Homo sapiens: one gene and its partner. The protein of the gene in region 2 interacts with the protein of the main gene of each other region in a pairwise test. Each region holds a gene or a part of one and is shown on either strand. Other genes may lie near its edges.

The links. The genes of interacting proteins can lie anywhere in the genome.
Region 1: the proteins of OGDH (region 2) and PLSCR1 interact in a two-hybrid assay, tested with the Homo sapiens proteins (one large-scale study listed by BioGRID and IntAct).

Annotation. Positions count from the first base shown.
Region 1 is NC_000003.12:146,534,542-146,538,114, reverse strand, and holds part of PLSCR1 (phospholipid scramblase 1), read left to right. Parts: intron 1-70; exon of another isoform or gene 71-119; intron 120-1,549; coding exon of another isoform or gene 1,550-1,562; coding exon 1,563-1,575; intron 1,576-3,573. UniProt on the Homo sapiens protein: Catalyzes calcium-induced ATP-independent rapid bidirectional and non-specific movement of phospholipids (lipid scrambling or lipid flip-flop) between the inner and outer leaflet of the plasma membrane resulting in collapse of the phospholipid asymmetry which leads to phosphatidylserine externalization on the cell surface.
Region 2 is NC_000007.14:44,672,554-44,676,126, reverse strand, and holds part of OGDH (2-oxoglutarate dehydrogenase complex component E1 isoform 1 precursor), read right to left. Parts: intron 2,341-3,573; coding exon 2,186-2,340; intron 1,717-2,185; coding exon 1,570-1,716; intron 950-1,569; coding exon 859-949; intron 158-858; coding exon 1-157. UniProt on the Homo sapiens protein: 2-oxoglutarate dehydrogenase (E1o) component of the 2-oxoglutarate dehydrogenase complex (OGDHC). Participates in the first step, rate limiting for the overall conversion of 2-oxoglutarate to succinyl-CoA and CO(2) catalyzed by the whole OGDHC.

The DNA.
Region 1 (3,573 bases), on a different chromosome or scaffold from region 2:
CTGAGATTCCTATTGTCCTAAGAAAATCTGGGAAGTTAGTAACACAAACACATCTTTTGATTTATTTCAGGACCACATAAACCCATTTTGAATTATTCAACCATTGCTGAACTTCTTGAGTATGTATAATTAAGAGTTGACTATAATTGGAATGTTCTTAAGACTTTAAGTTGATTATAAAATTTTGTGCTTAAAGTTGGCAATAATCAAAACAAAACAAACAAACAAAAAAAACCCTTTATTTTAAAACACAGTCTTGCTCTGTCACCCAGGCTGGAATGCAGTGATGACATCATACTTCATTAGACCGTCAATATTCCAGGCTCAAGCAATCCTCCCACCTCAACCTCCCGAGTAGTTGGGACTACAAGCGCATGCCACCATGCTTGGCTAATTTTTTTTTAGTAGAGACAGTGTCTGTCCATGTTGCCCAGGCTGATCTCAAACTTCTGGACTCAAGTGATCCTCCTGCCTCAGCTTCCCAAAATACTGGCATTATAGGCATAAGCCACCATCCCTGGCCAAAAAATAATTCTGAAACAGCAAGGAGGAAGGCGGTTTCTTCTTGGGAAGTCTTGATTTTAGTTGAGCATGTAGAGGGATCACTTGACTTATTAACCACTTAGGATTGCACAGTAAGATAATTTAAAGGGTAGCCAGCACTGGAGTGGGCCTGGGAAGGGGATGGGCAGTTTGTGTTAGTGTGTGTGGGTCCAAGATAAAAATGTTGGGTAGCAGAGTTTTGCCTAATGCATTGTCGCTAAAAGGGATGAAGGGCATCGGGATCTACAGGAGATGGAAAAAGTAGTGACAGGATAGTAGTGGGAAAAACTAGGATCGGATCAAGGCACTGGAAGGCAGAAATATTGAGTAGAATGTTTGCTGCAATTTATGTTTCTGTATAAATACCGAGTACAAAGTTTCACTTGGGTGGTCAAGGTGCTATGGCTGTGACAACTCCTGAGAGTGGGTTTTCTGGTTAAAAAAAAAAAAAAATCTCTGAATGCACGGAGTCGTCTCAGGCCTTCTCAAATTTGCAAAGAACAGGTCCACAAGACCTACATTTCCCAAGATAATTGCAGTAGTGTGACCTGATAATTAACATTTTTTGCTTTCCTGCTGGAACATTCCTGGGGCCCAGAGACTGGGCCAAGCATTTCCAGTCCAAAGACTGGGAACTGAACCAAGCATTTCCTTTAGATTGTTCAAGTTGTGAAGGTTGATGTTATTAGCTTGGTTACTACTTGGAGTCTTAGCTCATAGTGTGTCTTTATGGCTTTCTGCCTCACTGGACCCTCTTCCCAAAAGGCTTTAGAATGTGTTCACCATCATGAGCTGACCAACAATTTCTAAATTCCTACTCAGAAACACAGCAAGGGGAATGCAGTCAAGCACAAAGGGCTTAAATGACCAGATAAGGCTGGGCTGGATGAATAAAGAGGAATATCCTATGAATGTGACTGTGTAGTTTTAGAGTATCCCGATTCAACTGTTATATTTGACTTGTGGCCTTGTAGACAGTGTGTTAATGTCAGATCTTCTTTTTCAGAACTGTTTTAATCATGGACAAACAAAGTAAGTAATTTATTTTAAATGTTTACTTTCCTCCTTATAATGTTAATCTGTTGGTAACTTGTTATTTGTCATAATGTTTTATTCAGTGTCTGAAAGTGTATAATTTGTTTTCTGTTGTTTATGCTCCAGAATACAATGTCTAGTTCAGTATTTTGACTATAGAGAAGATGTACAAAAATAGCACTATCACTAGGTTCTTCATTAAAAATACGAAAGCCTTTTGGAAAGCTAAGAAATGCTAGATTTATTGGGAAATATGTTCTGTAACATATATTTAAACCACAACAATATTCTCTTTGTGTATTTTATATGTATAAAGATTATTCAAGTCATACTAATTAACAGATAATAAGATTTGAGTTCATTGTAATAAACTCCTCAGATACACACCTCAATGTATATTTCATCACAGACACATGTTTGTATTTTAAGTAAATACCAGTCATTATGTTCTGGCTTTTTTTCTCTCAAGAAAATTCTAAGTAAGATGGATATTTATCAAGCAAGTAATAAAAGACTGTCTTATTAAGATATCAAGGTTCTGAAGAACAGAGGGAAAATTATGTTCAAAATTCCCACTACATAGGGAAAATTAAATTCAAAAATTAAATCCTGTTTTTCTGAAACGCTTTTCTTTATTCTCTCTTTCATCTTTGTTGAGGTAACAAAAAAATATTTATCTGTCACTACAGTGTCACCCTTATTAGATATATGAAATAATCTCCAGGACTAGACTCCTTGCTTTTCCCATGTGAAGTTTTATGATTTTCTTTTTACTTACAAAACTCAAAGCTTTTTAAATGTAAATTTATATAGAATTATACTGGTTTATTTGCCACAGACTTTAAGTTGATTCCACTCAATTTACAAAAATGTATCTGGTGATGGTCATAGGCAACTTTTAACTCTTCAGTTTTGTATATATAATTGTATGTATGTATGAATGTATTTGCATAAATAGAAATAAAATGTGTATATGTGTGTGAATAAATGTGTAAATATGTATATATACATACATGTAGACATAAAAAAAAGTACCTTTAAGACAATGTGATAGACTTGTACTTCTTATAAGCCATTTTAAGTTGCATTTCAAAAACGCAGTAATCAAACCATAATTAACATGCTCTTTGTTCTGCTTGAACACCTGCCCATTCACTCATTCTCCTTGTATGAATTCCCCCTGGAATGCCTGAAATCAGAATCATTGCTTTGGTACCAAAAGCCCAGAGATTGTGAGCTCATGATTTCTTGAGTCTGTCTGTTCCTGTATATGTGTGTGTGTGTGTGTTCTATGTTATAGTATTCAAACAATGTTGCTTATTAAGAGGTATCACAATGTGACATACCTGTCAAGGGTAGATCTTTACTTCAGACTTGCAAAATATTTTCTTGAAATCTATTCTGAGTCTGATGCTGTGTTTCCAACTTAATTTGGGAGTAGGGGCTGCAGGCAGGGCCTTATTAGCTAGAGAACTAGGGAGTTAGGTCAGTCACTTGATGCTGAGAAATAGAAGAGAATGGATGGGAAAGAATGATGGGGAGTTTCAGAGATTTGTGATGATTCACAAATCACAAGGTATGTTGCAATGTTTGTCCAGGGAAAAGTCCTCATTTGTTTTTTGTTGTTGTTTTGTGTTATTTATTTATTTATTTATTTATTTGAGATGGAGTCTCGCTCTGTCGCCCAGGCTGGAGTGCAGTGGCACGATCTCGGCTCACTGCAACCTCCGCCTCCCGGGTTTAAGTGATTCTCCTGCCTCAGCCTCCTGAGTTGCTGGGACTACAGGCGCGTGCCACCATGCCTGGCTAATTTTTGTATTTTTAGTAGAGATGGGGTTTCATTTTGTTGGCCAGGCTAGTCTTGAACGAGTAGGAGAGCGGTTTTTTTGCCTGATTTTACACAATCACCATGGACTGGATTCCGCTGAAGTCATCATGAAGCTATTTATGAAGGAGAAAGGCCGGGGCAGGGGGTGGGGGAAACAATCCAATCTT
Region 2 (3,573 bases):
AGTAAAACTGTTCGGCTTTGGTCTTGCCCATCACCACGGGGTCAGCGGCCTCAAGGTGGGAAGGGTTGGCCACCAAGGACAAGGTAATGTTCCTGTCGGTGACACGATTGATCCTGCGGTGATACATGCCCAGGTGGTACTTCACATCTCCGGAGCCCTGATGGGGTAAACAGTGAATTTGCACCCTGGCCAAGGAGATGCTCAGTCTCCAAAAGAGCCCTTTTATACGGGAATTTTTTTTTTTTTTTTGAGATGGAGTTTCGCTCTTGTTGCCCAGGTTGGAGTGCAATGGCGCGATCTCGGCTCACTGCAACCTCCACTTTCTGGGTTCAAGCGATTCTCCTGCCTCAGCCTCCCGAGTAGCTGGGATTACAGGCATGCGCCACCACGCCCGGCTAATTTTGTATTTTTAGTAGAGATGGGGTTTCTCCATGTTGGTCAGGCTGGTCTCAAACTCTCGACCTCACGTGATCCGCCTGCCTCAGCCTCCCAAAGTGTTGGGGTTACGGATGTGAGCCACCATGCCCAGCCTTATATGGGATTTCTACTCCCAGGAACCCAACGCAGAAGGATATGGAGGCCTTTTCCCAGGATCATTCCCATCCAGGGCATAAGGAGAACGTCCCTCAGCCAGAGGGGACACACCCCTGCACTCAGAGTGGGGCTGCTGGACCTCTGACCAGGAGGTGGGCCACTGGCCACCTTTGTCCCAACACTAAAATTCTCCCAACAAGGAAGGCAAATCACAAATGGTACAGAAGAACCAACCCCCCGTAAGTCATTCTAAGAAAGAAGTGGAGCCAGGGGTCTTGTGTAAGTTGGGGCTATGCTGGATGTGTCTCTATGCAGGTGCCTCACCTCATCAGCTGCCTCCAGCTTTGAATCGAATTGACAGAAGATCTGTTCCAGCTCCTTCCTGATGACATTTGCAAGCACGTTCAGCCGCCCTCTGGAACGTATGGGCGAGTAGGGTGAGCAGAGCCTGAGGTCATGGTTTCCAGATGGCAGATGAGGGTGTTACAATCCCCCCCTCCCCCTCCCCCCAGGACACGGCACCTCCTCGGTTTGCAGCCCAAGGATAGCTGTAAACTGGAGCTAATGTGGGAACCGAGCCTCTCCGTGCTGGGCAATCAAGGCCACAGTGGGCAGCAGAAAGATAGAAGATGCAGCAATGCCATGGGCCTGAGGCTTCCTTACCCTTCTCCCTCCCCACACCTTCCCTATTTTCACAGTCTTGGCCTCCCCTTCAATGTCAGGAAGCAGCCTTCCCTCCAGGTTAGACCCCAACAAGGGAACTTGGGTTTAATTTTCATAAAGATGCACTGTAAGGCCAAATGCCAGTCTGAAACTACATGTGGCTTTGGAGGTGACCATGACTTTGCAGTCCTCCAGAGGCAGGCAATGTGAGAATCCCCTGCAAAGCAATACACCCTCAGGTACCAGATGAGCCCAGACTCACAACTGGCACTCAAGGAGGAAACAGCTGCTCTCTCAGTGCCTTTACCTGGTGCCTCCTACACAGCCCACAGGGATGGTGAGAAACCAGGTTGGGCGCGCCCTTGGCTGTACCTGTGTGGCATGCCCATGATCACGTAGTCCACGCCATTCTCACTAGACTTGTCAATGATGGTCTTGAGGGCAGGGATCAGTACCTCGCAGCCTTCTAGACCAAAGCGCTTCTCAGAGGACCACTTCCGCTGTAGGAACTCCTCAAACCTGGACAGGGAACCAAGCCACCTTGAAGGGCAATGTCACTCTTCCTGACCAAAAAGAGGGGATTCTGGCCAGGCATGGAGGCTCACACCTGTAATCCCAGCACCTTGGGAGGCCGAGGTGGGCAGATCAGCTGAGGTCAGGAGTTCGAGACCAGCCTGGCCAACACGGTGAAACCTCATCTCTACTAAAAATATAAAAATTAGCCAGCCGTGGTGGTGTGCCTCTGTAATCCCTGCTACTCAGGAGGCTGAGGCAAGAGAATCACTTGAATTCAGGAGGCGGAGGTTGCTCTGAAGGCTGACTCTACTTGTCTGGTGTCTCTTCACACATGTGCAGATGGAGCTTTGCCTGTACCACCCCAAACCCCCTCTCACCTCGGCCAACAGGCTGCACACAGGCCCGATCAACACAGACAGGGTCACTGCTTCCCTGGGAATGTCTGCCCCATGGCCCAGGGCCAGACCCATACCTGGTGGACCGCACAAGCCTGGCCAGCAGGGTCCGTTTCTCCTCATTTGTGAACTGCATGATCCCAGGGGTCTCAAACTTCTGCCGGATCCACTGGCACTGCTCCAGGTCATTGATGAACATGAACTCCACCCCAATATGCTGGCAGTAGGCCATCTATTCCATACAGAAACACACAGTCAAGGGGATTTCTAACCAGGCCTGGCTGAATGAAGACTGCCGACTGCCCATTCAGCCAGAAGGAGGGGATAAGCAGGAGGCTTGTTCTGAAATGTACTCCAATCAAGTGTGACTGAGGATGGGATGGAGTGGGTGCCAGGCAGAAGCCCTCTTCATAGGGTCATGAAGTGCTTCCTTCAGGGACCTGGGTCACTTGTACACAGAGAACCTCCTAGCCTTCCAAGGGCAGGCCAAGGGACAACCCCAGTTCTACTCTGTTACCTTTGTGGCAAGAAGCACAGACCGCAACAGTTGTGGAACTGGGTCCTTCCCCAGGGAAGACAGGCTGTCATCAAGGTCAGACCTGTACCAGCACCCATGACAGGAAATGCCCATAGGGTGTCATAGGCTCAATGGCTGTTAAAGATTTGCAGGTTTTAAAAATTATTTATTTATTTATTTATTTTTTTGAGGCAGGGTCTCTGTCATCGAGGCGGGAGTGCAGTAGCGCTATCAGAGCCCGTTGCAGCCTCAACCTCTTGAGCTCAAGTGATCTTCTTGCCTCATGTTTTGAATTTTTTGGAGAGATGAGGTCTCACTATGTTACCCAGGCTGGTCTTGAACTCCTGGGCTCAAATGATCCTTCTGCCTCAGGAAGCAAGATTGCCCATAAGACAAAAGTCAGGATCCTGAGCAGATCAAGATGTCCTGTACCACGTTCACACTGCACAGCTGGGTGAGGAAGCAGCATCCAGATCTGCAGAGCTCGGCAGGGAGGAATTCAGGAAGAGGAGAGGTGCCAGGAGCGAGAGGAGGCACCAGGCTCTTAGAAGTCCATCTCGGGGCCAGGCGCGGTGGCTCACGCCTGTAATCCCAGCACTTTGGGAGGCTGAGGCAGGCAGATCACAAGGTCAGGAGTTTGAGACCAGCCTGACCAATATGGTGAAACCCCGTCTCTACTAAAAATACAAAAATTAGCCAGGTATGGTGGCATGTGCCTGTTATCCCAGCCACTCAGGAGGCTGACGCAGGAGAATCGCTTGAACCCAGGAGGCGGAGGTTGCAGTGAGCCAAGATCATGCCACTGCACTCCAGCCTGGGCGATAGAGTGAGACTCCATCTCAAAAAAAAAAAAAAAACAAAAAACAAAAAGAAATCCCTCTCGGGCTGCCCTCATCCTGGTACTCCTGCAGAGGCCCAAAACTCGACCTGCACAGCTGCCCTGGAGGA